Linked DNA regions of Homo sapiens: all the other regions are linked to region 1. Evidence: fine-mapped expression QTL. A gene starts in region 1. Each other region holds a variant in brackets. All regions are shown on one strand. Distances are between the middles of the regions. Region 1 holds the start of SLC66A3 (solute carrier family 66 member 3). Region 2 overlaps PPIAP60 (peptidylprolyl isomerase A pseudogene 60). Region 3 overlaps FLJ33534 (Putative uncharacterized protein FLJ33534).

Evidence for each region. PIP is the estimated chance that this variant, and not a neighbour inherited with it, causes the effect.
Region 2: its variant is the best candidate, but not a certain one, in a credible set for the expression of SLC66A3 in whole blood (INTERVAL, PIP 0.86).
Region 3: its variant is the best candidate, but not a certain one, in a credible set for the expression of SLC66A3 in whole blood (TOPMed, PIP 0.53).

Annotation. Positions count from the first base shown.
Region 1 is chr2:11,150,281-11,160,148 of GRCh38, reverse strand. It overlaps SLC66A3 (solute carrier family 66 member 3), which reads right to left and starts at 4,682. Exons shown (of 7, transcript NM_152391.5): 1 at 4,460-4,682. The coding sequence starts at 4,602. It overlaps CIMIP5 (ciliary microtubule inner protein 5), which reads right to left. Exons shown (of 3, transcript NM_001371321.1): 3 at 8,832-9,868. RefSeq lists silencers at 1,357-1,605, 4,266-4,505, 4,616-5,095 and an enhancer at 7,351-7,851.
Region 2 is chr2:11,358,797-11,369,147 of GRCh38, reverse strand. It overlaps PPIAP60 (peptidylprolyl isomerase A pseudogene 60), which reads right to left. Exons shown (of 4, transcript XM_047446546.1): 3 at 3,859-4,002. Among named protein-coding and RNA genes, the nearest start is that of PPIAP60, 12 kb to the right of the region's middle. The variant G/T (reference allele first, on the strand shown) is at 5,978.
Region 3 is chr2:11,118,985-11,129,335 of GRCh38, reverse strand. It overlaps FLJ33534 (Putative uncharacterized protein FLJ33534), which reads left to right. Exons shown (of 9, transcript NR_040080.1): 2 at 238-352; 3 at 450-615; 4 at 4,551-4,753; 5 at 6,047-6,184; 6 at 8,374-8,573. Among named protein-coding and RNA genes, the nearest start is that of FLJ33534, 8.0 kb to the left of the region's middle. The variant A/T (reference allele first, on the strand shown) is at 5,506.

The DNA of each region.
Region 1 (9,868 bases):
TTCTGGGCCCACGCTTCTGGCCTGCCTGCCATGTTGGGCTCCCACTGACCCCGGCAGCTGCCCCTCAGCTGCTGCACACATCTGCCCTCCACTCTGAGAAGCTGCAGAGGCGCAAGGATCCGAGGAGCCGCAACCATCCCTGGATGCGGGGGTCTGTGGCCGTGTTTTTAGAGTTAGAACAGCACCTGGATGGTCCAGTTGCCTTCCAGAAGAGCTGCCCGGTTGAGAGGGCAGTGGGGGAAAGCGTGAAGAACCACCCTCAATTTCGCTAAGAAGACTCCGGCTGTGAGGATGCTGCGAAGGCCACAGGGTCCCACATTCTCAGAAGAAAAGGCAGAGCTTCCTGCCTCCCCCTCACACCCAGCCATCTCCCTTCAGGACCGGAATCCCTGTGGTCTCCTGGGGCTACCTGTTTGTCTCATCACCCAGCTTTTTGGCTCCCTCCCTCTCACCTGTGTGTTCAGACCACTCAGGTCAGGAAGAAAGGGGAGCCGGAACCATGGGACTTCAACACACAGGAGGGGCCCCCCAGGGTCTCCAATCTCCTAAGCTGGGAAGGAATCCTGGAAAAGTCCGATTCACAAACAGGCTGTGCCTCCCTGGCCTGTTTCTGACAGTGCACAACTTAGCTGGGGGCGGAGTCAGAGGAGGTCACAGTGTTGCCCTGAGCACGAGGGCCTCCCACAGGCCTGGTCCCCGAGTGCGGGCCCCCACCGTGCCCAGCAGGGTCCCCACCCCCAGCTGCCTGCAGGCCCTCCGGGTGCTGTGCAGCTGAGCCACCTCCCAGCTTCAGGGACAAGCGGTGCCTCTGCCCTGCCCTGCCGCAGGGACTCTCCTCCTGCCAGCCTCCTGAGCAGCCCCCTCTGTTCCCCTGGGAGATTGAGCCCAGGGGGGCTGGCAGAGGGGGAGGCTGCACCCCAGCCCCTCTGTGGGGCCACAGCCAGCCACTGAGTGCTGAAGAACAAAAGCTATGGGGGTCTTCACCATCGAAGTAAGTGTGTGCTGACCCCTGGGACGCAGCCACAGTCCACAGGCCAGGCCTGAGAACCTGGGGATGTCAGAGCCCGTTCTCACCTTCAGGGGTCATCCATGCTGGCCTCCACAACTTACAGACCACTTGGGGAAATGGAGGCCCATAGACACCAAGAACATACAAGATGAAGAGCCTGGATTTCCCGAGGCTGATCTGGATGCAGCCGTTGCTGCCCCTGCAGGTTTTGCCGTCTACTCCCTGCTTTCCCTGGGATTCAAACTCCCCCCATCCCTGCAGCCTGGGGAGGTGGGGTGGGGACAGTGTCTTTCCTTTAGTTTTTAATGTTTCTTTTTTTTTGAGATGGAGTCTTGCTCTGTCGCCCAGGCTGGAGTGCAGTGGCGCGATCTCAGTCACTGCAACCTCCACCTCCCGGGTTCCAGCGGTTCTCCTGCTCAGCCTCCCGAGTAGCTGAGACTACATGTGTGCCACTACACCTGGCTAATTTCTTTTTTTTGAGGCGGAGTCTTGCTCTGTCACCCAGGCTGGAGTGCAGTGGCACGATCTCGGCTCACTGCAAGCTCCGCCTCCCGGGTTCACGCCATTCTCCTGCCTCAGACTCCCAAGTAGCTGGGACTACAGGCGCCAGCCACCACGCCCAGCTAATTTTTTGTATCTTTAGTAGAGACAGGGTTTCACCGTGTTAGCCAGGATGGTCTTGATCTCCTGACCTCGTGATCCGCCGGCCTGGGCCTCCCAAAGTGCTGGGATTACAGGTGTGAGCCACTGCACCCAGCCTACACTGGTTAATTTTTGTGTTTTTAGTAGAGATGGGGTTTCACCATGTTGGCAAGGCTGGTCTTGAACTCCTGACCTCAGGTTATCTGCCCGCCTCGGCCTCCCAAAGGGCTGGGATTACAGGCATGAGCCACCATGCCTGTCCCTTTAAAGTTTCTTTTAATAAGTAATCGCTATAGTGCTTATCATAATAAAATCATGCCAGCCGGGCATCTGACACAGCCCCATTTGTTTCCATTCCCATCTGCTCCATGCAGCCATTGGAGTTTTCTCCCTCAACACCTACTAGAGGGTTAAACAAAACGTACCCCCACCCAGGCTGGGGGACAAGTGACCTGGAGCAAGGGGTGGGCTCCAAAGGCATCCTACCCAGAGGCCAAGGCTCTACAGCCTAAGGGTCCACCGTGGGAGGGCCGCAGTCCATGGAAGGCTGCAGGCAGGGCAGGTTGGATGAATCTTGTGCTCCAGGAGGCTCCTGGCTGCAGAGAGCAGGGAGGCAGAGCCCAGCAGAGCCCTGGAGGCAGGAGAAGCAGCAAGGTTGGGAACTTGCGAGGGGGAAGGCTCCAGCTACAAGGAATGCCCCTGGGTGGCAGAGGCAGGTCCCTGGGCAGAGGCTCCTGCCCTTCACACCAAGCCACACTAAAAAGGCTTTTCTGGCATTATTAAGACACACTTCATGCTCCAATTGACTCAGTGCTCTCAAAACCAGGCTCTTAGTTTGCTCAAATGGAGACCCAAAGAGGGCCCGTGCCCTCCAGGTGGCTGACTGCGACAGCCCTGGGGTTCCTTCTGCTCTAACTCCGGCTGCTGCCTGATCTGGTCAGGGGCCCGGGGGCCCAGCTGGCAAGCATGGCCAGCCCCAGGTGGGCCTCCCAGGCAAGGCTGGGAAGGGCATGAGGGAGGCAGGCAGGGAGACAGGAGGGCCAGGAGGATGGGTCCTGACACAGCCAAGCCCATTTTACAGAAGTCTGTGTGCCTGGCCCTGGCCCTGGCTTGGAGGCTGCAGAGCTGGTGCACCAGCCCCGACAGAGCCCCCTTTACCTGCACGTGATCAACTGCAAGACCCTTAGACAGGCCAGCAGGGATGGCAGCAAGCTGCTGCCCCACCCAACCCTTGAGCTCCCATGCCCAGGAAGATCCTTCCACTGCCAGAGGTCTAGCTTTCACTAAGGTGAGCTGGGAGAGGTGACAGCTGGCAGATCTAATAGGAGCCCTCACCTGCGTATCTCTGAGGGTTTGCATTTTTCAAGCAATGCTGCAAAAGTGGTGGAAATGCAGGCCTAGGGGCTGGCGGCAGGAGGGAATCTATAGACTCTACAGACAGCCTGGCTTCTTTTCCTTCATGGGTCCAGCTTCAGCTTCCCCAGCTCAGGGACCTAGCAAGGGGCCGAGGCCAAATCCCACTCCTGGCTTTCATGCCCTTGTCCCCTCTCCCACCTGAACAGTCACCACAGCCACTTCCAGCCTGTGTCCTTTGCCACAACCTCATCGCTCCAGCCTCTCTGCTCCCAGCCTGGTGGTGGCACCAACCTGAAACGCATGCTGCCCACCTCCCCTGGGTGCCTCTCAACCCTGCCATCCAGCCTGGGACCCCCCCCTCCCCACCCCGCAGGGTAGAGTCACTCACAAGCCTGGAAGAGGTCACAGTCCCTCCCACTGCAAGCCTTTCCCAAAAATTTCCCCTCAAAGCCCCCTATTGGATGACTGTGCCCAGGGCCGGGCTCCATAGGGCCGGCGCGGGGTCCAAAGCCTGAGTGGGACCCCTCACCCTCCCACACCTGAGGTCTCCTCTTTCTCCCCCGCACCCCTTGGCTTCTTCCCATCCTGTATGCCGCACCCCCCACCCCGCCCACCAGGAAGGCTTGTGTGGAGGACCAGGCTTCAGACCCCACTGGGTGATGGCGGGGGGCAAAGGGGAAGGCCTGGCCTGGCCAGGGGGAAGGGGCGAGACCACTAGGTTGAGGTATGTGTTTTCCTATTGTTGGGGCTCAAAAATGATACCCCAAAAGTTTGGCGCTCTGGCATGATGAATACTTTGAATAGGAAAGCCTTAGAAGCTGCCTCAGAATCAAGGATTTAACGACCTTTCCGTCACCCCTTCCCAACTGCAGAGACTCTCCAACTTCCTTACAGATGACTAAGGAAACTTCTTTCTACAAGAAATGCAATTGTCTTAAGACCCTCTCCCAAGGAATCTCATTAAATAACCAGGAAAGATTCCCCACCAATCACCGGGAGAAGAGAAGAGATTCATACATTCTTAGTTCAACCCCTTATTTCACAGGTGAGGAAACCGAGGCCCGAGAACGAGGTTGACGGTGCGTGGTGAGTTTAGGGACAATGAATATGACAGCCTCGAGGTGCAAATGGCCTTGCTCAGGGCCAGCAGGTTTTGTCACTAGCGCACCAAGGGCTGCCTCCGCTGGGTCTGTTTTCTCATCTGTAAAATGGGCGTGCGCAATCAATTCGTGCCACGCGGGGCTTGGTGAGAAACAATGTACGCGGGTGGCGGGTGGCCGTGGGAAGAGCACCCCGAGCCCCTAGGCTCCCTAGTTCACCCTCGGCCGCCCAGCTGCGACGCCGGCGCGCGGGGATCATCCCCGCCCTACTTCGAGCCGAGGCTCTCCTGGGCTCCCAGCCGGCAGCAGCTGCGAGGGGGCAGGAGGCAGCCCCGGCCGCCCCGGGCCTTACCCTGCCAGCTCCAGAAGTAAACTCGGAAGGCTGAGGCCCCGCGCGCTGCGCGCCGCTAGCACAGCGGAGATCTGCGGCAGCTTCAGCGCGGCGCACACGCCCAGCGTGCTCCAGTTACACAGCCCCAGCAGCGCCGCCTCCATAGCGCCACGGGCGCGGGCACCTGGGCGGCCGCAGCGAGAAGGGACCGCTCAGCCTCGGCGGCGCAGCTCTGCCGAAGCCTTCCGCCTTCCCGGGATCCGCCCGGGACCACCCGGCCAGGGCCCGCCCCTCCGCGCGCCGCCAGGCCCCGGACCCGCCTCGCTCCGCCCCTCCCCTGGACGCACCCCGCCCCCGGGCCCGCCCCGCCCCTCCCGCCCGGGCCCGCCCCGCCCCGCCCCTCCCGCCCGGGCCCGCCCCGCCCCCTGGCCAGCCTCATCTCGCCTCGCCTACGGGCCCGCCCGGGCTCGCTCAGTCCTCGGACTACCCTCATCTCGCCCCGCCCCCAGATTCGCCCCCTCCCGGTCGGCCTCACCTAGCCCAATCCCGTGGCCAACCTCGCCTCGCCCCGCCCCTCCTCGCCCCGCCCCTCCCCTCCTAGCCCCGCCCCGGGCGACAGTCCCACCCTGGCCTGCGGGCTCCACCAGCAGCTGCTTCGCATTTCCGCGTTCTTGCCACCCGATAGTTTAGCCGCCGCCGGGAGCCGCCCTGGAAGTCCGGCTTTTCCACGGGTTGGGTGGACCGAGAGGCAAATGGCCCCGGGGGATGGGCCATTCTGCCGGGATTTTTCCCTCCCTGCAAGTGTTTTAGTTTCTCTCACTAAGCATTTCAGGAGTTAAAGCCTCCTGCTTAAGGGCTGAGTGCACCCTCCCGACTTACAGGTGGGGAACCAGGCTGGAGAGACTTTCTGGGACCAGAGCCCCAGGGTCGCCTCATTTGTGCCCTTTCAGAGCACGCGGCCTGTCTCCAGCCTGGGACTGAAGGCTTCCCTCCTAGCGGCGTGGGCCCTGAGGGGCCACCGGAAGCCTTGAACTTGAGCACTTCACAGTGAAACTGTTTCTTAAGGATTTCTCCTGATAAAGTAACTTGGACGTGGCCGTCTAAGCCACAAACTGAGGGAAAGGGAAGGACGCATTTTCCAACCTCTGAAAATCGCCTGTGTATTAGGGCCTGGTTATGAAGCAGGCAAAAAAGCACCAAAATGCAATGCCAGAATCCACGATCCCTGGTTTTGTGCCATAAATCTCAGCCGGGAAGTGTGAGGGACGGGAGCTGGGTCAGCTTCGGAGTTCGGAATTCTGGCCGAGGCTCTTTCTCTCCAGCCTCACCGGCCCATCACCTCCGCCTATGGAAAAAAAAAAACAGGTGCTGAGTCCTGCCTCCCAAGTCTAAATGAGAAAAGGATGTTCAGAAGGGAACCCTTAAAGGAAACGGCTTGGACCTGCCCTGGCTAGATCGATACTGATCGTTATTGACCCCGCGAAGCGGGAAGATTGCTTGAGGCCAGGAGTTCAAGACCAGCCTGAGCAACATAGGGAAACCCCCGCCTCTACTAAAAATACAAAAATTAGCCGAGCGTGGTGGCGCGTGCCTGTGGTCCCAGCTACTCGGGAGGCTGAGACAGGAGGATGGCTTGAACCCAGGAGGCGGAGGTTGCAGTGAGTCGAGATCGCGCCACTTCACTCTAGCCTGGGAGACAGAGCCAGACCCTGTCTCAAAAATAAATAAATAATATGTATATAAATTTTTTGAAGAAGAAAATAGAGAAGAGCTTTTTTTTTTTTTTGAGACGGAGTTTCACTCTTGTCGCCCAGGCTGGAGTGCAGTGGCACGATCTCTGCTCACTGCGACCTCCACCTCCGGGGTTCAAGTGATTCTCCTGCCTCTGCCTCCCAAGTAGCTGGAATTACAGGCATGTGCCACCACTCCCGGCTAATTTTTGTATTTTTAGTACAGACGGGGTTTCGAACTCCTGACCTCAGGTGATCCACCTGCCTTGGCCTCCCAAAGTGCTGGGATTACAGGCATGAGCCACCGCGCCCAGCGTAAAGAGCTTTTTAACAAGCATCAGCAGCAATGACTATAGGAACATCTAGAACCTGTTGAGTGCCTCCTGCGTGCCAGGTGTTTTACTTTCATCATGCCATGTGATAGGTCCCTTGATGCAAGGAGGTGGTCCTGGTTGGAAGTGCCTGGTTCCTGCCACATGGCAGTGGAATCCCCCTCCCTCCTCTTCCCCTTCTGCCCCAGCCTTTATTCCAGGGGTTGGCCAGGATCTGGGCCCCCAGGACTAGCCTTAGGAGGGAACTGCTCCCACCTGGGGTCAGCCTGCGCTAGCACTTGGGGATGCAGGCAGCATGAGGGGCCTTTGAGAGGTATGAGTGCCCCCAGGACCACGCAGGGAGTGGCCTCCTCCATTGTGGAACAAATGCTGCTCCTGGCCCAGGACACTGCAGCCGCCTGCTCTGGGGGTCAGCTGGGTGAGGCAGGGCTGTGGAAGAGGTTTCTTCCTGGCTCCTAGACCCCTCCCTGGCTACTTTGCGTGAAGACCAGGATGCAGTGATGTGGGTGTGTGGCCCTTCGGGGTTAGGCAGACCTCAGCTGTCCTCCTAGCATTGGCCCCTACAGGCTGCATGATCTTGGACAGACCTTAACTTCCCTGTTCCTCAGCGTCATTTTTAAAAGGGGAGAACCATCCCGCTCAGAAGGTTATTGAGAGGCACAGAATAGGTGCTCAACGTATATGGTCATTCCCCACCAGGTGCAAACTAGCAAAACCTTTTTGGGATTTGTGGGCACTGGCTTTGCTCCTGAAGCTGTGGGGATGGGGGCGGTCCTAGGTTGGAGCCAGGTTTGGGCCATGCAGGAAGGCGTTTGGGTCTCAGCCCCCATGCCCAGCGGGACATCTCAAGAGCATGCCAGCTCTTCTGCTTGGAGGATGGCCTCAAAACAGCTGATCTGCGAGGCTCCTCTGTCCCTTCAGGAGGTTGGGGAGTGTCTGGACGGGGGTCTCTACAGTGCACACTCACTGGGATATCTCTGCAGGACAAGATAGTGCCCCCATGTTAGAGACCTCTGCCTCCTCCCCAGCTACATGGCAACCCTGGTCACAATCTGTTACAGGACCCTAACCCCACTCCTGGGCCACAGCTGCACAGAGTGAATCAGCTCCCTGACTGAAGCTGGCCAAGGAGTCTCATTGAAACCACCTTTGCAAAAATTATAACAGGAAATTATGACAATGAAAGAAATCAGACCTAACTGACCCCATCTTGCTTCTAAACTTTAAGCTGTCCTGGTTCCTTCCTGGGCATAGGCTGAACCAACCTTGGGAAGGAATTTAGTTTATGGTTTGACTCTGAAACAAAATTAGTAATAATCCTTTCCCGAAAAGACCACCTTTGTGCCTTGGGACCTGTCTGCCTTTGTAGGACTAACAAATTAGCTACAAGATTAGAAATGACAGTTTAGGGTCAGGCAGCCTCTGGCTGCAAGAGTCTGAACCTTCCCAAATTGTTCCTGGGGATCACATCACTATTGTAAAACCTAAGATCAGTGCTTGAGGTATTTTGCAGCCCCTGCACTGGATGGATCAGCTGACACCACCCAGACCAATTATTTGGCTCAACCAGTTCTGCAATCCCCGCTCGGGAACAGAAGACAGCGAGAAAACTTCACTTCGACCCCCGTGTGATTCCATCTCCATCCTCACCAATCAGCACTTTCCACTTCCCAAGCCCCTACTGGCCAAATTATCTTTAAAAACTTCCATCCCCAGTCGGAGCGCGGTGGCTCACGCCTGTAATCCCAGCACTTTGGGAGGCTGAGGCGTGCAGATCACCTGAGGTCAGGAGTAAGAGACCAGCCTGGCCAACATGGCCAAACCCCGTCTCTACTAAAAACAAAAATTAGCCAGGCATGGTGATTTGTGCCTATAATCCCAGCTACTCTGGTGGCTGAGGCAGGAGAATCACTTGAATCCAGGAGGCACAGGTTGCACTGGGCCGAGATCGTGCCACTGCACTCCAGACAGAGTGGGTGACAGAGCGAGACTCCGTCTAAAACCAAACCAAACCAAACCAAAAACAAAAACACTTCCATCCCCGAATGCTCTGCTCAGGGAGACTGATTTGAGTAATAATTAAGCTCCAATCTCCCGCACAGCTGGCTCTGTGTGAATTGCTCTTTCCCCTGTCTTGATAAATGGGGTCTGTCTAGGCAGCGGGCAAGGTGAGCCCTTTAGGTGGTTACACCTTCACGTGGGAACATGGAATTGAGCAGAAACTGATTCCATGCCTCCCCCACCCTCACCCCCTGACTCTCTTCAACAGAGGAGATCTGAACTCGAGAGCCATTGGTGGTGGCAGTAAACCCAAAATATCTGAGACAGGTCTCAAGCAATTTAAAAGTTTATTTTGCCAACAGGTCCTGACGACACGTCCCCAAGGTGGCTGGGGTACAGCTTGCTTTTGTGCATTTTAGGGAGACCTGAGACATCAATTAATATATGTAAGATATACTTTGGTTCCATCCAGTAACACAGGACAACTCGAAGAGGGGGGCTTCCAGGTCATAGGTAGATAAGAGACAAAAGCTTGCATTCTTTTGAGTCCTTGATCAGCCTTTCAGTGAATTCACAATCTAGTCTGGCTCAGTGAATCTTCATTTTTACATACACAGTAGGTCTGAGGAAGCAATCAGATAAGCATTTCTCTCAGGTGAGCAGAGGAATGATTTTCTGTCCTGCACCTGTTAAGATCAGCTATCAGTTTACATTGCCAGGATGAATTCAACAGAAATGTTTCAGGGTAAAGTTTTGTTTTTTGTTTTTTTTTTTAATTCTTGGCATGATCCTGAGTAGGGTAAAGATCTTGAGGCCCACAAGGAATTTCCTTGTGGGCAAATTGTGAGGGAGGCATGTAGCTGTTTTATCTTTATAGCCATCTTATTCAGGAATTAAAATGGGAGGCAGGTTCCCAGCTTGACTTTTCCCTTAGCTTAGTGATTTTGGAGTTGAGATTTATTTTTCTTTCACAGTGGCCATTCCCCCACCTTCATTAAAAAAAAAAATTCCTAAACCACCGGGCACGGTGGCTCACACCTGTAATCCCAGCACTTTGGGAGGCTGAGGCTGGCAGATCACCTGAGGTCAAGAGTTCAAGACCAGCCTGGCCAATGTGGTGAAACCCTGTCTCTACAAAAATACAAAAATTAGCCGGGCATGGTGGCAGGTGCATGTCATCCCAGCTACTCGGGAGGCTGAGGCAGGAGAATTGCTTGAACCTGGGAAGCGGAGGCTGCAGTGAGCCAAGATGGCACCACTGCACTCCAGCCTGGGTGATAGAGCGAGACTCCATCTCAAAAAAAAAAGAAAAAAAATCCTAAACACAAATTTTTCGTTAAGCCACTTGCAAGTTTGTTATATACATC
Region 2 (10,351 bases), 210 kb before region 1:
TCTGTCTAAGCCTCCACCTTGAAAACTGAGCCCTTGACCCCATCACTGTAACTTCCAATTTCCCTTTCAAGAGGACAACCCGATGCTGGGAGATAAATAGGGTTTTAGAACTGGAGTTGGATCAAAACAGGAAAATCAGGCTGGGCACAGTGGCTCACGACTGTAATCCCAACAATTTGGGAGGCTGAGGCAGAAGGACCACTTCTGGCCAGGAGTTCAAGACCAGTCTGTGCTACATAGCGAGATTCCCCTCATCTCTACAAAAAAATTTTAAAAATAGTCAAGGGCAGTGGTGCCTATAGTTCCAGCTACTGGAGAGGCTGAGGCAGGAGGATTGTCTGAGCCTGGGCAATCAAGGCTGCAGTGAGCCATGATCTTGCCATTGCACTCCAGCCTGGGTGATAGAGTGATCCCATCTCAAAAAAATAAAAATAAAAACGATTAAAATAAAATGAAAAAATCTGACTGATGAGGGTCAAACTAGGAAAACAATTCTGTCCAAGAGGTTATTATGGGGCCAAAAATGGGCCTAAAAGCCAGAAAACAAGAAGTTAGGCATTCACTGAAATGCAAACCAGACAGAAAGCAAGAGAGCAGAAAGAGCTGGACAATTGCTGAGAAACAGCCCGGGACTCTGACGCTTGCCTCCACCCGTGTGGACAGCGTGCCAGTTTGACGGCTCAGAATCGGAAGGGCACCCACATGGGCCTCCCCAGCTTCCTTTGGCTCAAAGGTGTCCAGACAAAAAGCGAACAAGGCAGTAGGAAAATGGAAGCTCCAATTTCCCTTCTCATTAAAACTGTGGGTATGCCTTTTCTCACACAGAATTTCCCTCACATTCTGGGCTCTCGGCTGTGTCCAGGAGTCCAGGACTGGCTTTCAGCCAATGCACAAGCTTCCATTTCAGTCCGGAGTTAGAAATCTGTCATGCTTTGACGTTTTGGTCAAATGGCTCATGTCCAGAATCCACCAAATGTGCATTTTGCAAAACTGCCCTCTCTTCACAAGCTGCAGCCTCAATTCTCATTGTGAGTAGCTGAATATAACAAGGAGAACCTTCAGACTAGAAATTGCCTGATTTCTCCTGCAAACTTCTGCCCTGAGAAGGCAGATGTGGGGCTGCAGACACAGGCACTTATTCATTCATCTCATTGAAAAGCTACGAGTTGGTTCCTTATTGCCTCTCCATAATAGAAAAACTCTTTAATGAGCTCTCTTTTTGTTTTTCAAATCAGATATGCAAAGAAGCTCATAACAATTTTTTTTAAAAATGCGAAACAAGAATCTCCAATTATGGGAGCAAAATCTTCAGCTTCTGGGTTCCTGTCTCACTGAGGAAATGGATTTGAAATGGCAAGGAGGAAATGAGGAGGCAAACTTTCATGTCTATTTTAGTTTTCCAATGCAGTCCTATTTCCTTTGGACTTTGTATAAACAAGGAAAGGACAGTTGTTAGTTCAGTTATTACAGATAACCTGTGTCTTTAAAGTAAATGTATCTTAAATAAGTAGGACTCCCATAAATGACTACACTTTTTCAAAATATGACTCCCCAGCTTATAACAAGAATAATAGCAAACATCACTTTATTAAGCAATTACTATGTAAAAGACACTTAGTGCTTAGCACACACTGGAAATATTGTTGACTGGCTATATTTTCCCCAGAAATCCCATTTCTGAAAGCCTATTACAAAGAAATAAAATCATCAGTATAACAAAGGAGTGTGTGTGTGTGGGTGTGAGTGTGGGGGGGGGTGTGAGTGTGTGTGGGTGTGAGTGTGTGTGTGAGTGTGAGTGTGTGTATGTAAGTGCACACACATGTTGTAGTATTGTTCATAGTGGCAAAAACTAGAAACAAAGTGAATATTGATAACATGGGCACAGATGACAAATTATATCTCCAAATTATGAAACAGAATCCAGCCATTAAAATCAGAGCTTTGCCACGTGACTAGGATGAAGTTACAAAAAGTATTGTTGAGTGAGAAAAGCAGGATACATAGGATACATGGAATTGAGTATAATATGATTTCTTTTTTTTTTTTTTTTTGAGATGGAGTCTCGCTCTGTCACTGAGGCTGGAGTGCAGTGGCACAATCTCAGCTCACTGCAACCTCCGCCTCCCGGATTCAAGCAATTCTCCTCCCTCAGCCTCCTGAGTAGCTGGGACTACCGTCACCTGCCACCACGCCCCAGCTAATTTTTGTATTTTTAGTAGAGATGGGCTTTCACCATATTGGTCAGGCTGATCTCAAAATCCTGACCTCAGGTGATCCACCTGCCTCAGCCTCCCAAAGTGCTGGGATTACAGTTGTGAGCCACTGCACCTGGCCGATTTCTTTTTTAAAATGATCAAAAAACCATTTATATGTGGGAATATAGCTATATACTTTTATTATTGAATTACCATGGAAAAAAACATGGAAGAGGGAGGCCAAGGCAGGAGGATCACTTGAGGCCCAGGAGTTTGAGACCAGCCTGGGCAACAAAGCGAGACCCTCATCTCTACAAACAATTAAAAAATTAGCTGGGCTTCGTGGTTCACGCCTGTAGTTCCAGCTACTCAGGAAGTTGAGGTGGGAAGATCACCTGGGCTTGGATAGATCAAGGCTGCAGTGAGCCGTGATTGCGCCACTGTACTCTAGCCAGGGTGACAGAGAGACTCTGTCTAAAAAAAAAAAAAAAGGAAAAAAAAAAAAACTTGGAAGGTGCATTCAAGGTTGTCAACATGGTTGTGTGGGTTGTGTCATGGGCCCAGGTTCAGCCTGGAGCCATGACATGAGTGGAACAGACTAGAAGGGGAGGGAGGGGAAAATAAAGAGAAAGGGAAAATGGAATCTGTTTTAAGGAAACCCACCAGGGTATACAATATAATCACACGATGTGTATATATGCAATTATGTCAGTTATGAGGAATGAAAATAAAAATGGCATTGATTTTTTTCTCAATAACCTTGTGAAATATTATTTTTCCCACTTAATAGATAAGGAAATGGATGATCTGATTTGCCAAAGGCTATCTGATTCCAAGGCTTAAATTATTTTCCTATAAGTATGATGCACAGTTATAATGAAAAAAAATCAAATATCATAGTAAAGTACAATGAAGATTGTAAAAACTCCTGAGTTCCAGAGACACTGCTATTAAAATTTGAGAAAACAACACTCCAGAAGTTTCTCTATGCATATATACCATTTACCAAATCATGCAAAATATGCCAAAGTCAGTCGGCTGTGAGGTTATGGGGGAGGTACTGCATCCCTGCAGGAAGTGGATGCTTCTATTGTCACTCATTCTGAAAAGTGGATAATCCTGGGCAGGGAATTAGGCCAGTCTGAGGGCTGAGGGAGGAGGGGGCAGGCCCAGGACCGGCCTTGGGAGGCTCAACGTGGTTCCTGTGATGGGAAGGAGCTGCCCTGACAGCTGCAGGCAGCCAGCCTCCCAAAATGTGGATGGCAAGTAAGAGGCATGGGTAATAATGGTCTCTATCCTCCTGAACAGCTCTCCCCCTGGACAGCCGTGAAAGAAATTGGGACTGATCTTTGGACAGGAGGATGGCTGTGTCCCCTCCTGAGGTCAGAGGGGGACACTGCTTCCAGACAGGGCCTGCAGCTGAGCTTACAGCCTCTCCCGACATGGCCACGTGATGATTTGGTCATGCCTTCTGATGAATGGCTATCTGCTTATGTGCCTAGATCCACCAGAGTTGTCACAGTTACAGGCCAGTTACTAGGAGGCCTCTTCTGAATGTGACATGGGAGGAGGGTCTCCCCTTTTCTCTTGGGGAGACACTGAGGTGAAATAGGCCTGCACCAGCCAATACAGAGGCAGCAAGTAGAGTCCTGAAGACACTCACTTGGCTGCAAAAGAGACCAGGGGTTTCCTCCAGCTGCCTGGTTGGCTGCTGCTCTGAGAAGATACCAGGCCTCTGCTCCGGTGGCTTCAGGGAGGCCACCCTGGACACAGCCAGCAGAAGCAGGTCATCGATGGAGGGGTCAGCCTACAAGGACACAGCCAAGTTCATGTTCTTTGGGAGGTGGCAGCCAAGGTAAGCCTGAAGGGTCTGATTCATAGACGAATCTTCAGAAATATCTGGAGAAGTGAATCTCAGAGATATAATCCTCCCTCCAATTTGAATGGGTGGGGGCTCCTGGGCATTATGACTTGAGTATTAAGGAAGGGTGTCTTTATTTTGCACACCAAGCTGATGAGGTGAGACATGTGCATTACATGGATATAGATATGCATATCCAAAATACAAAGCTTATCATACTGCTCACCTGCTCAAAATCCAGCAACAGCTTCCCTTGGGGTGAAACCCAAACTCTTTACCATAGACCCCCACCCGGAACACTGCATGGCAGCCATGATAAAGTCTCAGTTACCTCCTCAGATCTCCAGGCCTTCACCCGTATTTCTGCTTAGAATACTTCCTACTAGAGTCACCCGGACAGTTCGTAGTCACCCTTAAAGATTCAGCTTAATGGCCGGGCGCGGTGGCTAATGCCTGTAATCCCAGCACTTTGGGAGACTGAGGCAGGCAGATCACCTGAGATTAGGAGTTTGAGACCAGCCTGGCCAACATGGTGAAACCCTGTCTCTACTAAAAATACAAAAAATAAGCCTGGTGACGTGGTGCACAACTGTAGTCCCAGCTACCTCGGGGGCTGAGGCAGGAGAATCGCTTGAACCCAGGAGGCGGAGTTTGCAGTGAGCCAAGATCGTGCCACTGCACTCTAGCCTGAGTGACAGAGCAAGGCTCTGTCCGTGCCCCCCCAACCCCACCACCACCAAAAAAAAAAGATTCAGCTTAACATGTCACCTCCCCTGGGAGGTCTTCCCTGGCCCATTCCCTCCTGGCCCAAATCCTCCAGATTTGTCTTCCTGCTTGGCGTTCCTGTAATCAAACATTTGTTACACTTTATTGGTATGTTTCGCCCAGAGATAGGGATTCTGTCCTACTTGCTTCTGTATCCCCAGTGTTTTGTATAGTTAGTATTTGTTAATCTGTTGAACGACTGAATGGTGTAGGTACATAGTTTTACACAAAGGGAACATGCTCTGTAGTCTTTTGCATTCAACAATGCAGTAAGTCTGTGCCCTTAACCATTACACGTCCCCATGAAAGGGTTTTAACTATGGCCTACAAGCATTTTACAATCCAGTCCTCATCAGCTCCATCCTTTCTGCTTTCTGTGCCTTGAATATTCATGCATTTTCATCTACAGTGCCTAGCACACAGCCAATGCACCTGCCAAAGTGAAATACCCCAGGGTGTGCCCACATTCTTTCCCTACATTATTCCATGCCTGTTTCCCACCCCTGCCTGGCTAATTCCCACCTCTCCTCTGATGTCCCACTGAAACGTTTTCTCCGTGCAAAGCCCCATCTGTTTCTCCTAGACAAAGTGAGCAAGCCTGCCTCTGTGGGCCCCTGAACCTTGCTCCTCTCTCCTCACGGCTCCTAGTGTGTACACCCGCGGTGGCTCACGCCTGTAATCCCAGCACTTTGGGGGGCCGAGGTGGGCGGATCACGAGGTCAGGAGATCGAGACCATCCTGGCCAACACGGTGAAACCCCGTCTCTACTAAAAATACAAAAAAATTAGCCTGGTGTGGTGGCATGCGCCTGCAGTCCCAGCTACTCGGGAGGCTGAGGCAGGAGAACGGCATGAACCCGGGAGGCGGAGCTTGCAGTGAGTCGAGATTGCGCCACTGTACTCCAGCCTGGGCAACAGAGCGAAACTCCGCCTCAAAAAAAAAAAAAAAAAAAAAAAAATCTGCTCTCTGACTCAACTTTGATCACTGATAGTACTGGGACTTTTGTCTTCTTCCGTTTGTTATTCCCAACATCTAGTACAGCCTCTGCCACCAACTGATATTCAATAAATATTTATTGAATGAATGAATGAGGGCATGAATTAAGAAAGTTTAGTTTCACGCTTAGAGAAACATCACGCCAGGCTTCAGGGCCAAC[G/T]GGAATCCATCCCAATTCCTGCTACAGACTTACTGATCCTGTCAGTTGTAATCAGTCAGAGAAATCATCCCAGCATGCTGGAACTAGGTAGAAACCTTGTTTTGCACATGATGAAACTGAGGTCGTAAATGTGAAGGTTGCACAGCAAATTCCATCAGAAGTTGTCTGAGATAGCAAGACTGATACCCATGCATATCAAGAGTCATGAATCACCAAGATCTCATCCCTAATTCTAGTGCTGTGTCATACATTATTTTACTTTTCAACAAAATAATGATGATTCCTTAAAATTGTGTAGCACTTTATAACTTACAAAGTCCTGTAAAAAAAAAAAAAAGACCTCTGAACTAGCTATTTGTGGTTAAGTCACTTGCCAGAATCATTCAGTTCTTAAATGATGGATCCAGGGCTAGGACTCAAGTTTTTGCTCTATGCCCAGTGTACTCCTCAAGATCCAATGTCTGCCTCCAACATTACAATAAACGGTGGTTAAATAATGATTCTAGGCTCACTCCTGGGAAAACATTATCATTTCTAATCAATATAATCATTTCCTATTTCTAAGAATTTTCTGAAGGCGACATAGACCAGACTTGTCAAACTTTTACATAAGAGAGCTGATAAGATCGAAGCATGGCTATAAGAAGGAACCAGAGTGTCAGGTCTGTGTGTGTGTCTGTGTGTGTGCACGTGCATGTGTGCATGGATGTGTAGTGTGTCAGTGACTCTGCATGTGGAATACTTGGTAAAGGCTTTAGGAACTCAAAAGTGTGGGTGGAAACAAAATAAGCAAATCTCCAATGCACAGCATCTGCATAGAGTGTGACCTTGATAAATACTTGCCAATGAATTAATATGCCCTGTGTTAAAAAATTCTCATATAATTGTTGTGCCCTTAGCCAGTATTTCCATAGAATGACTTTTAACAATGTAAATATGTCTTCCAAATAACTAAATTTATTCACTCATGCTTTCATCCAACAACGAACGCCTGGCCAGGTGCGGTGGCTCACACCTGTAATCCCAGCACTCTGGAAGGCCAAGGCGGGTGGATCACCTGAGGTCAGGAGTTTGAGACCAGCCTGCCCAACGTGGTGAAACCCCGACTCTACTAAAAATACAAAAATCAGCCAGGCAGAGTGGCAAGCACCTGTAATCCTAGCTACTTGGGAGGCTGAGGCACAAGAATCACTTGAACCCGGGAGGTGGAGGTTGCAGTGAGCCAAGGACGCGCCACTGCACTCCAGCCTGGGTGACAGAGTGAGACTTTCTCTCAAAAAAATAATAATAATAGTAATAGCCAGGCGCCGTGACTCACGCCTGTAATCCCAGCACTTTGGGAGGCTGAGGAGGGCAGATCACAAGGTCAGGAGATCAAGACCATCCTGGCTAACGCGGTGAAACCCCGTCTCTACTAAAAATACAAAACATTAGCGGGGCGTGGTGGTGGGAGACTGTAGTCCCAGCTACTTGGGAGGCTGAGGCAGGAGAATGGTGTGAACCTGGGAGGCGGAACTTGCAGTGAGCCGAGATCGCGCCACTGCACTCCAGCCTGGGCGGCAGAGCAAGACTCCATCTCAAAAATAAATAAATAAATCATCATCATAATAATAATGGAGGCCTATAGGTGCCAGACGCACAGTTTCCCCATAACACAGCAGGAAACTAAACAGACAGACCAACGTCTACTCTCATGGAGTTTACATTTTTGGGGGATGCTAGACATGGATAATAACCACTCGGTTATATATTATATTAGGTGATAAGTGGTATAAAAAAATATGGTTAGGCCAGGTGCGGTGGCTCACGCCTGTAATCCCAGCACTTTGGGAGGCTGAGGTGGGTGGATCACGAGGTCAAGAGATCGAGACCAGCCTGGCTAAAATGGTGAAACCCCGTCTCTACTAAAAAAATACAAAAAAAAAAAAAAAATAGCCAGGCGTGGTGGCGGGTGCCTGTGGTCCCATCTACTTGGGAGGCTGAGGCAGGAGAATGGCGTGAACCCGGGAGACGGAGCTTGCAGTGAGCCGGGATCATGCCACTGTAATCCAGCCTGGGTGACAGAGCGAGACTCCATCTCAAAAAAAAAAAAAGAAAAAGAAAAGAAAAAAGAAAAATATGGTAAGAAAAGGGGCTTGGGCGTGGGGTGGCTAGGAGTGGGGTGGGGTTGCAATTTGAATCAAGGGGTTCAGGAAGTGACATTTGAACAAAGACCTGTAGGTCGGGTGCGGTGGCTCACGCCGGTAATCCCAGCACTCTGGGAGGCCAAGGCAGGTGGATCACTTGAGGTCAGGAGTTCAAGACCAGCCTGGCCAACATGGCGAAACCCTGTCTCTACTGAAAATAGAAAAATTAGCTAGACATGGTGGCACACAACTGTAGTCCCAGCTACTGGGGAGGCTGAGGCAGAAGAATCACTTGAACCCAGGAGGCAGAGGTTGCAGTGAGCTGAGATCATGCCACTGCACTCCAGCCTGGGTGACAGAACGAGACTCCATCACAAAAACACACAAAAAATGAACAAAGACCTGAGAAGAAGGGGCACAAACTGTGAGAATATCTTGGGGAAAATCTTAACCTTTTGAACAAACACATAATTTTTAAAACTTTGTTTTTGTTTTTAAATAGCTTATATACACTTGGCTGCCCTGCCCCCCTTTTTTTTTTCCTTGAGACAGGGTCTTGCTCTGTCACCCAGGCTCCAGGCTGAAGTGCAGTGGTGTGATCACGGCTCACTGCAACCTCTGCCTCCCAGGCTCAGGTGATCCTCCCACCTCAGCCTCTTGAGTAGCTGAGACCATAAGCACGTACTACCATGCCGAGCTAATTTTTGTATTTTTTGTAGAGAGAGGGTTTCACCATGTTGTCAAGGCTGGTCTCAAAGTCCTAGGCTCAAGTGATCCACCTGCCACAGCCTCCCGAAGTACTGGGATTACAGGCATGAGCCACTGCACCCAGCCTACACGTGGCTGCCTTCTGAGAGGATCTAGCAGGTAGTTTAACATGTTCCTGATAATTCGGGCATCTCTGTGATTGTCAATGCTGGGCACCATGTAGTGCTGTCCATGGAGGTGGAGATGGTGGAAGCTCGGAGGACTAGAGGACTATTTGCCCCCCCGCTAGAGGGCTCCAATCTGTTTTTCTTCTGCATTAATTCTATGGCATCCACTCCTCTCACACCCTATTATTTCTGGTAGTGTCCCAGCATCACTACGCCATGCGTTTTGTCTGCTTTTTCGTAATACATCATTGGTTTGTTAGGATTGGGTCTAGAAGATAAAGACTTGAGCAAAAGGCTAAAATGCAGTGCACAGGCTTTATGACATCTGCTCTGCCTCTCTGCCTATTCACATAGGACATTTTTTGCTTATTTCCTTACTCTCAATTTCCTTTCTGACTGTCTGAATGCCAAATAATTAAATCCCTGATTTGGGAACTGTTGCTAATTAATACCTCATTGTCCTTCCTTTTAGGGCTCAGAACCATTTTCTTTTTTATTTCAACAGATTTTCTTCATAGGAAGCAAGTTAATGTGCAGGTTTCCACAGAGCAGTGGAGACAGACTCAGGATAAAGCAGTGCATGAGGAGAAAGTTCCCAGGACAGGATCCAAGAAGCTCTCAGTGAGGGGAGGGGACCTGAAAGCACAGAGAACAGAAACTGTCTTTATTTATTTTTTAGCCAGTATGCCGTTTGCCTATAACCTAATAGTGGCACAGAGGAGGCCAATAATTCATAGCTATTTTATGCACATCAGGGAAAGGAGAATGAAAATACTCTAATAAAAGTCCATGGGAAGTGCAATGGGAGCACAGAGTAATGAGTAATAGACTCTTACATGGAATTTGGGATGGGCTCACAGCAGAGGTGGCATTTAAGTAAACCTTTAAAAGATAAGTACGTTTTCATAAGTAAAGAAAGGAGGGAGGCCATGTGCGGTGGCTCACACCTGTAGTTCCAGCACTTTGGGAGGCCGAGGCAGGTGGATTACAAGGTCAGGAGATGGAGACCATCCTGGACAACATGGCGAAACCCTGTCTCTACTAAAAATACAAAAATTAGCTGGGCGTGGTGGCGGGCACCTATAATCCCAGCTACTCGGGAGGCTGAGGCAGGAGAATTGCTTGAACCCAGGAGGCAGAGATTGCAGTGAGCCAAGATTGTGCCATTGCACTCCAGCCTGATGACAGAGTGAAACTCCATCTCAAAAAAAAAAAAAAAGAAAGAAAGAAAGGAGGGAAATTTCTAGACTGAGGAAACAGCAAAAGGAAAGGCCTGAAAGGAGGGAAATGCCTAGTTTATTGACAATAAAAAAGTGAGCAAATAATTAGTATACTTTGACTTTTCTGGCTCTTTTGACTGGAAGCCTAGGATC
Region 3 (10,351 bases), 31 kb after region 1:
ATTATAGAGGTGTGCCACCGTGCTCGACTAATATTTGTATTTTTAATAGAGACTGGGTTTCGCCATGTTGGCCAGGCTTGTCCTGAACTCCTGACTCAAGTGATCTGCCTGCCTTGGCCTCCCAAAGTGCTGGGATTACAGGCGTGAGCCACCATGCCTGGCCAAATTTTTTTTTTTAATGTATCAGCAATATTTTTTCATGTTTCTCTTTATATATATATATATTTTTTGACACAGGGTCTTACTTTGTCGCCCAGGCTGGAGTACAGTGGCATGATCGTAGCTCATTGCAGCCTCCACCTCCCTGGGCTCAGGAGATCCATCTCAGCCTCCTGAGTAGCTGGGACCACAGGTGCTTTATAATCTTTACACATCTCATTGTAGCCAGTTTCTTAGAGTTGATGCATGATAATGTGTTTAACCAATTTTTTCTCTTCTTGGGCATTTAGGTTTTGTTCAGGTTTAGCACAAGCTGTGATGAATATCTTCAAGCCTCTGCTTCCTGCTGTGGAATTGTTGCCAAAGGACACATTCCCAGATGGGATTACTGAGTCAGAGGAAGTGGACATTGAGTGGCTCTCAACAGACAGGCTGTGTTGCTCTCACAGTGCCCAGGTACCACCAGCAATGTATACACATACAGGAAGCGCCGGCTTCCCTGTTGTCTTGTTGCTGTGGCGTGTTGGGGTCTCTAAGACCACCCTGGGTTTGTTGATTGGCTAGGAGAACTCGCAGAACTCAGCATACAGTGATACTCGAGGCTATGATGTATTACGACAACTGGAAATGAAGCAAATTCAGCAAAGGAAAAAGGCACATGGGTCAAGTCCAGAGGAAATGGAGTGTGAGGGTCCAAGACCCTCTCACATGCTGGACGCGCCCACTTCCCCCAGAAGTGTGTTGGGACAACACGTGTGGAATGTCATTTGTCAGGGACACTCACTAGAGATTTGGCACCGAGGGTTTTACTGCAGGCTAGTCACAAAGGCCCCCTCTGCCTAGCATGTACCAAAATTCTGGACTCCCAGTACGAAGACATAAACCACAGTGTTTACACAGTTTAGGGGCAGTGAGCCATTCATATCAGGGAAGGGCGGGAACCCTCCCCAAATCCAATTTCCCAGATACGAACCAAGGGCCAACCTTGCAAGCAGTCCTTGCTAAAGATAACATTGCTATAATTTGTATTTCTTTCATTTTTCTTTTGAGAGTAAATCATTTCGATATAAAATAATGAGATGGGACCTGGCCATCCGAAGGTTCATTCACTCTCAAGGCTGGAGGTTGATGCCAGCTGTCGGCTGTGACCTCAGGTGGGTCTGGCGGCCAGCTGCGGCCCCTCCATGTGGCTTGGGCTTCTCTCCAGTGTGAAGTGGCTGTGTTTCAAGGATGAGGAACTGACAAAGAGGGAACCAGGTGGAAGCAGTGTCACCTTTTCTATCCTAACCACAGAAGCCACCCTGTGCCACTTCTACCACATTGTTTATTAGAAACAAGTATGAATACTGGCCCATATTCAAAGGGAGGAGAATTAAACTCCACTTTTGATGGGAGGAGGATCAAATAATTTATAGAGGTTATTTAAAACCATCACAAACATATTAGATTTGCCATGTTTAGGCATTTATTCTGCAAAAAAACATACAAATGTGCAAAGTTACTTGAGGCTATTTTCTGCAGTGTTATTTGTGTTAGTTAAAAAAAAAAAGGAAACAATCTAAATGTCCATCAAGGGTCAGGTGCAGTGGCTCACGCCTGTGATCCCAGCACTTTGGGAGGCCGAGGCGGGTGGATTATCTGAGGTCAGGAGTTCGAGACCAACCTGGCCAACATGGTGAAACCCCATCTCTATTAAAAGTACAAAAAATTAGCCGGGCATGGTGGTGCATGCCTGTAGTCCCAGCTACTCGGGAGGCTGAGGCAGGAGAATTGCTTGAACTCTGGAGGTGGAGGTTACAGTGAGCTGAGATCGTGCCACTGCACTCCAGCCTGGGCAAAAGAGCAAGACTCCGTCTCAAAAAAAAAAAAAAAAAATTCCATCAATAGAAGACTGGTTATGTTACTTGTGGTATCTTTACTATACTTATTACTTGTAAAGATGTCATCTATATAATGTTAAGCAAAACAAACATGATAAAACAACAATAACAAAACGTGTTGCAAAGTGGTATATGCAGTCTGATTCTGGTGTTGTTATTATAATATGAGTTGAATGCATGAGAAAAGTCTGAACGGACGTGCTTCCTCCCGTGTCTACTGCATATCTTTAGGGAGTAGACCGGAATGCAGTGGCATGATCTTGGCTCCCTGCAGCCTCCAACTCCAGGGTTCAGCAATCCTCCCACCTCAGCCTCCCAAGTAGCTGGGACTACAGGCATGCGCCACCATGCCTGGGTAGTTTTTGTGTTTTCTTGTAGAGACAGGGTCTCACTGTGTTGCCCAGGCTGATCTCAAACTCTTGGGCTCAAGCAATCTGCCCACCTTGACTTCCCAGAGTGCTAGGATTATAGGTGTGAGCCACTGCACCTGGTCAATCATGTTAACGCCTAAGATATGATTGTCAGGGGTAGTGCAGAGAGCACAGAATTGAGAATCCAGAGAACTGGGTTCTTGTCTAGGCTCTGACCCTACCTTCCTGGGCTTTTTTTTTTTTTTTGAGACAGGCTCTCCCTCTATCGTCCAGGCTGGAGTGCAGTGGCACCATCACGACTGACTGCAGCCTCCTGCGCCCCGTGATCTTCCCACCTCAGTGCCCTGAGTAACTGGGACCACAGGTGTGTACCACCGCACCCAGCTAATTTTGTTTATTCTTCTGTAGCAATGGACTCTCGCTATGTTACCCAGGTTGGTCTCAAACTCCTGGGCTCAAGCGATCCACCCTGCTTGGCCACCCAAAGTACTGGGATTACAGGCGTGAGCCACCATGCCCGGCCTGGGCCCATTGGTAAGGATTATTCAACAGTAAAGATAGTAAATCTATGACAGTCTCTCTTGGATTATGTATTAGTTTGCCAGAGCTGCCCTAACACAATGCCATGAACTGGGTGGCTAAACAAGAGAAATGGAGCGTGTCACAGTGCTGGAGGTCAGAGGTCTGAGAAGAGGGGTCGGTGGGGTTCATTCCTTCTGAGACAGTGAGGGAGAATCTGTGCCAGGCCCCTTACCCCACTTTTGGGACCTTCCTGGCAATCTTCCATGTTCCTTGGTGTGCAGAAGCATCACCCTAATCTCTGCCTTCATCTTCACATGGTGTTGTTTCTTTGTGTGTCTCTGTCTAAATTTCTCCTGTTTTATGAGGGCACATTCATACTGGATCTCAGCCCACCCTACTCCAGTATGACCTCATCCGAACTCATCACATCGGCAATGACCCTGGTTCCAAATAAGGTCACATTCTGGGGTGCTGGGGATTAGCACTTCAATGCAAATTTTGAGAAGCACAATTCAACCAATCACAGATTATACAGATTTGAATTCCTTCTGGGATCTATTAAGGGATAAAACCGACCTTGTATGGCCAGGCACAGTGGCTCGCACCTGTAATTCCTGCCAGCCCTTTGGGAGGCTGAGGTGGGTAGATCACCTGAGGTCGGGAGTTTGAGACCAGCCTGGCCAACATGGCAAAACCACATCTCTACTAAAAATACAAAAATTAGCTGGGTGTGGGTAGGCACGAGCCTGTGATCCCATCTACTTGGGAGGCTGAGGCAGGAGAATCACTTGAAACCTCGAGGTGGAGGTTGAAGTGAGCTGAGATCATGCCAGTGCACTCCAGCCTGAGTGACAGAGCGAGACTCCATCTTAAAAAAAAGAACCAACCTTGTATTCAGCCCCCACTGTACGTCAGGCATTATTTCCAGTCCTCACCTCACCTCATTCGGTGAACAGTATTAGCTCCATTTTATGGATGAGAAAACAAAGTCTTCAAGAGGCTGAGTGTCTTGTCCAGGGACCCAGGCAATAAGTGGCAGGCCTTGCATGGAATTCACTCATACAACTTCTAAAGTCTGTGCTTTATTGGAACTGCAGAGCTGTGGTTTGACTAATACTTGACTACGCCTAAGGATTTTTCCCCAGGAACTTCCTTGATAATTTTCATTAAATAGACCTTATATTTTCAATCCACTCGAGCCTCTGGGAGACAAGTGAGAAATTCCCTGATGGATAATGGCATTAAAAACAGCAACTGTGTACACTGCTTGAAAAGTGTGCTTTCTTGCATTTCTCTTGTGAAGTGTTGTGACGGCCTTGTGAAGTGGAGCCGATCACATGTGGATTTAGGGGCAGAAACTGGAAGACCACAACCCACCTAGACCGCACAGGCAAGAAATGGACCCCCAGGACCAGAATCCCTTCTGACTATAGTTTCTGGCCTCTTCTTCAGTTGTTATTTGCAGAGAAAAAGCATCTCACATAAACAGTTTTACTTCGGTTATCAAAAAGATACTCAATGATCTATATTTCAAAGACTCTAGATTCCTGGGAGTTGGGGGAATTTTAAGCATTGGGAACATATTCTGGAGCATGTCTTTATGTTCTTTATTCTGTAGCTTCCCATGGGTGGCCAGCCGAATGCATTATGGGAGAAAGCAGGTCTCGTGGATAATATTTCTGAAGATCGGAGCAGGTTGCCAGGTCCACGTCGGCCATGACTGCAGCACGCTCCGGAGGCAGCAGGGGGCACCCTGGAGCTTCGCATCCTCCTTCAGGCCCGCGGCATCTCCCCTGGCTCCACCATCCCCAGGTGTCTCAGGTTGGACGCACGGTAGTTCGCTATGGCCATTTCTGATTAAAGACAGAACAAATGGATTGTCCGGATACGGTGTCTGTGAAAGGAACCCAGCTGTGAGCCTCGGCAGGCAGGTGCGACATTCTAAATCCACAGGGAGGGCCCAGAAGGGACGCAAGAGGTCACCTGCCGTGCAGGGTGCGGGGGGTCTTGGAGGTGGGCAGCAGCTGTTCACCCGTGAGCGACGAGGAGCATCAGCGCTTGAACAGCGGAAGCAGCATTTACAGGTGAACACCAGCCCGAGAGGGCCGGGGGGCCCAAAGCTATGGTGTCCAGAGCCTCCCAGCTCCCACTCTGGCCTCCAGTGGCCATGGAATTGCTAACTATGAGGGCGCAAGCTTCTCCCAGCAAGTCAAGGGGATGCTATGTGCTGCGATAACGGGTCCGGCCGCCTTGCCTTTGGCCTTCCAAGCCCCTCTCTGAGCCCCAGGACGTACCCACACCTGCCGGCCCATGTAGGGTGGTCCCAGCCTGCGTCAGTCAGGCCACACTCCGGAGCCAGGCTTGGTGCAAACTCCCAGCTGAGCTCACCCGCTGGCTGCGGTCTGTGATACTTCCCTGGTGGTCTCTGACGGGGCTGTATGGCCTCCCTCTGGAACCCAGGCTGAACACTCGAGGAGCTGGAGGCAGTCGGGCAGAATCAGCCTCTGGTTGCCAGCATGGGGTGTCAGGCAGGGGCAATCCAGCGGGGAGCCTGGGGAGAGAGGGCGGGGGTG[A/T]GGCACTGATCTCAGGCTGTGGGGAGGAATTCACACCTGCATGGCTGAGGCTGGTGCTGCCCCCCTGATCACCAGGAGATCAGCCTCTCCTTCCCCAGCCTCAATTTGCACCCCTGGCCTGTGCGGTTGGCACTGTCTCCCGTGGGGAGCCCCTGCCTGGCTCAGGGGAGACCCTGGTGCAGAGCCCACCTTTGGAGCTGCCCTGTCCTGCTGAGGCAGGAGCCACCCCTGGCCTGGCCCTGGCCCTGGCCCTGGCCCTCCGGTGAGGCTGCAGTAGCCAGGAGAAGGCCAGTCAGAAAGGCCATCTGCCTGGCGGGTGTTTCTAGCCAGCAGGCCAGGGTAAGGAAGTTGTCAGGCGTCCTGCGGGGATGGCCAGGGTTGCAGACAGGGGTGGCAGCCAGCTCCATGTAGCTCTGGGACCCAGGTGTGTGGCAGGGCCAGGAGCATGTTCTGCTGCTCTTCCAGGCCCGACTCCAGCTCATTTCCTTGAGAGACCCTTTCACCTATTCCAACCTGCATTTGCCTGTGTCGTCCTTTGCAGCAGCAGCCTTGTGGCTGTGCCTCTTCTGTGCCCTCCGAGTTCTAGGCTGAGGGTGAGGATTGGATGAGTTGATCCACGCAAGGCTCCTGGCACAGTGCCTGGCATATGGTTAAATAGACTTGAAGTTATAATTACCAGGTATGTGACCCTGTCCTCAATATGAGTGCCACAGTGGGCTGGAGAGTGGCAGCCCTGCTGGGCAGGATCGTAGGGTCTCAGTGACAGGCCTTCCTCGTATCCCTGACAGGGAGAGAGGCTCACTGAATAGTAAGTTGGCTGTGTCTTTTCTGTCTGAGCCTCTCTGGGAAGCTTCCAAGGGGATAAAGGCTTGAGCTGGAACTTGGAGGAGTTTGCAGGTGGCTGGATTGGGGTGGGGGTGGGGAGGAGGGTGCCAGCATGCCAGGTGGGGGAACAGCATGGGCGAAGGTATGGAGATGGGGGAGGGATCTGGACAGGGTGCCTGTGGCTGGAGCACAGGGCATGTGTGGGCGGGAAGCAGGTGAAGAGAGGAAGAGCTCTGGGGGACTTCTGGAGGGGACCCACCGTAGGAGCAGGCCAATGGCTGGCAGGGCTAAGTGGTGCAGGTGCCCCTGATGGATTTGATCGAGGTGGGCACACATGCTCATGTCAGAGGCATGTAAACCAGAGCAACTCCATCTTGCGTAGGAGCTGGGTAAAATGAGGCTGAGACCTACCGGGCTGCATTCCTGGACAGTTAAGGCATTCTAAGTCATGGGACAAGACGACACAGGTCATAACGACCTTGCTGATGAAACAGGTTGCAGTAAAGAAGCTGGTCAAAACCCACAAAAACCAAGACAGCCATGAGAGTGACCTCCGGTCGTCCTCGCTGCTACACTCCCACCAGGGCCATGACAGTTTACAAATGCCACAGCAATGTCAGGAAGTTAGCCTATATGGTCTAAAAAGGGCAGGCATGAATAATCCACCCCTTGTTTAGCAGATCATCAAGAAATAACCATAAAAATGTGCAGCCAGCAGCCCTCGGGGCTGCTCTGCCTATGGAGTAGCCATTCTTTATTCCTTTACTTTCTTAATAAACTTGCTTTCACTTTACAGACTCACCCTGAATTCTTTCTGGGGTGAGATCCAAGAACCCTCTCTTGGGTTGTGGATCGGGACCCCTTTCCTGTAACATATATAGCTCTGTACACCTTGAGGGTCTTAGAGGGAGGGTGGAGAGAGCCCAGGGCTGAGGGCGCCCCTTCTGTCAGGGGTGAGGCTGATGCCTGGAGCCTCAGTCTCTGCCCCACCCACCAAGGCGGAAGGCTGTCCCCTAAAGAGGAGCGATAACCCAGGGTCCTAAAGGAGCAGCGGGGCTCCTTAGTGTGGTGGGAGGTGGAGGTTGGTTGGGGTCAGGGTGGGAAGTGGGTGCCTGGCCAGGTGAGCGTCCCCAGATCTGTGGGACTGGCTTCTGCAGACCTCTGTCCCCGCTCCTGCTTCATCACCCTGACCTGCCCCTGTGCTGAGAGAGGACAGATGAGAGGGTGGGGCCAGAGGCTCTGCAAACTGTGAAGTGCTGTGCTCACCCCCCTTGAGGTTGTTCATTCTCAGTTCAGCTGTGCTTCTTCCCGGGGAGAAAGTCTTCGGAAGCTCAGGGAAAAGGCAGATCAGGAATGCGGAAGTGCCTGGGGAGGGAGCCACTCAGAGGATTACTGTCCACATGGTGAAAGCAACCCACACAGTGGTCCCCCGAGAGCAATCAAGGCCGGGGGAAGGGGTGCTACAGGCCCCTGAGACTGAGGAAGGGGAGGAGATATGGTGAAAGGGGACAGGAAGGGACTTTTGGGGGTTGCAGGCATCTCATTTGTTTGTTAAGCCATTTCCCCATCACACCAGCCCATAAGGTAGGTCATATTTCCATTATACCTGTTGGAAAAGGGAGGCTCAGAGAAGGTGAGTAACCTGCCAGGGTCACACAGCAGAGCTGGCATTTGAACTCAGGGCTCTGACTCATGGGTCCTGGGAAATCCCTCCATGGCAACAGAAAAGATCACAGAGAGGCTGGGGCCAAAGACAGATTCTGCCTAGCTCCCAGGTGGCCTGTGGCCAGCTCTGCAATGATTTCTTCTAAGGCTGTTAGTCTTTAAAGAATGGCAAAGCCCAGGAGTGAGTTCGTCTGCTACTGCGAAGTGAGTTGTTTCTGAGACGCACTTCTGGGAGGTAGTGACATTGCTGTCACAGAAGGGACTGAGCAGAAACTGCTGCTACAAATACGTCTTGTTTGAGAGTGAGCTGGGGCTGGGTGAGCTCGGAGGCCCTTCAGCTCTGGGGTTCCTTCATTCCAAGTCTCTTTCCTTTCACAGGCCTGTTTCCTCCTCATGAGAGGTGGAGCGGTGGTTCCCAAACACGATGTGGGAAGTGTGTTAAAATGCAGATCCTGGGCTCGACCCTGAAGCTCTTCCGGCATCCACCTTCCCAGGTGACCAGACTCTGGGGAAGGCATCACCTCAAGACTCCTGCACCCTTCCTCCAGAGTCCTGGGATTCAGCTAAATCCTGGGAAGGTAGGACGGGCCTGCGCCTCCCGCCTTCCTTTGCTGTAGGGTTGGTCCTGTCTCTGCTCCCTCAACCCCTAGTTCCTGTCCATTTCTCTTGAGACAGCTTGTCTGTCTCGGGTCCTCTAAACCTACTCTCAGGCCCTCACTTCCTGTCACCTGGGCAGCAGAGCATGTTTTCTTCAATAGCACCCTCCCTAAGAGACTCTTCAAATCATTTATTTGTCATGATGCATGATAGTTAAATGAAATAACAGAGGCAATGAAGCACCTGCTCAGAGGCTGGCACCTGGTGCACTTTTGACAAGTGACACTTTCATCTTGACAGTTGGGAGGAGCTTGCATGGATGAGTGGGGACGTGGGTGTGCTGGGTGGCACCAGGGCACACACAGCTTGACATATGGACACTGTCTGGCAGCAGGTTAGATTAGAGGTGGACGGGGTACGGATGTGTGGACAATTAAACTAGGACTCAGGGACGCTCTGCCCCAGGACTGGGCAGGCAAGAGCTCTGGGAAGTCAGTGGGCAGACAAAGGGTGTGGTTGGGTGGGCAGGGCTTCCTGGGGGAGGTGATGGTGTTGACCTGACCAGGGACCCATGCCCTTTCACCACTTTGTTGTTCTTTTTTTTTTTGAGATGGAGTTTCGCTCTGTTGCCCAGGCTGGAGTGCAATGGCACCATCTTGGCTCACTGCAACCTCTGCCTCCCAGGTTCAAGTGATTCTCCTGCCTCAGCCTTCTGAGTAGCTGGGATTATAGGCAAGTGCCACCACGCCTGGCTAATTTTTGTATTTTTAGTAGAGACAGGGTTTCACCATGTTGGTCAGGCTGGTCTTGAACTCCTGACCTCAAATGATCCTGCCGCCTTGGCCTCCCAAATGTTGGGATTACAGGCATGAGCCACTACGCCCAGCCTCTTTTCTTTTCCTTTTTTTTTGAGACAGGGCCTCAAGCTTTGTCACCCAGGCTGGAGTGCAGTGGTGTGAACATGGCTCACTGCAGCCTCAACCTCTGGGATCAAGTGATCCTCCCACCTCAGCCTCCCGAGTAGCTGGGATTATAGGTGTGCACCACCATGCCCAGTTACTCTTTTTGATTTTTGTAGGGATGAGGCCTCCCTTTGTTCCCCAGGCTATTCTCAAACTCCTGGGTGCAAGTGATCTTCCCACCCTCAGCCTCCCAAAGTGCTGGGATTACAGGTGTAAGCCACCATGCCTGGCCACTGTTTGTTCTTCTTACAGCTCATGGAGAAGACAATTATAATACTTTAGCTCATCCCAATCATCACACCGTGGCTTTAGCAATGTTGGGAATCTGATGTACCCGTGTCCTGCTGTTATAATGATGTCGGTGGTAATAGGTACACATCTTGAGTACCTCTTTAACCACTCGAATGCTTTATTTCATTGACCCCTGACAACAACGAAATGACATGGTACGATGGTTAATTTTATGGATCACCTTGACTGGGCCAAGGGTGCCATATTTGGTGGAGCGTTACCAACTGTGTAATGTGTCTCTGAGGGCATTGCTAAGTGAGGTCTGCATTTGAATGGGTGGGCCGAGCGAGGCAGGTGGCCCTCTCTGATGGGCGTGGGCTGCATCCAGTCAGTTGAAGTCTATGTGGGTCTCTTTTGAAGACCCAGATAGAACAAAAAATCTGGCACGAAAGGGCTCTTCCTGCCTGACTGCTGGAGCTGGGACACTGTTCTTTTCCTGCCTTTGGACTGAGAGGAAAACATCAATTCTTCTTGGGCCTCTTGCCTGCTGGCTTTCAGACTGGCAC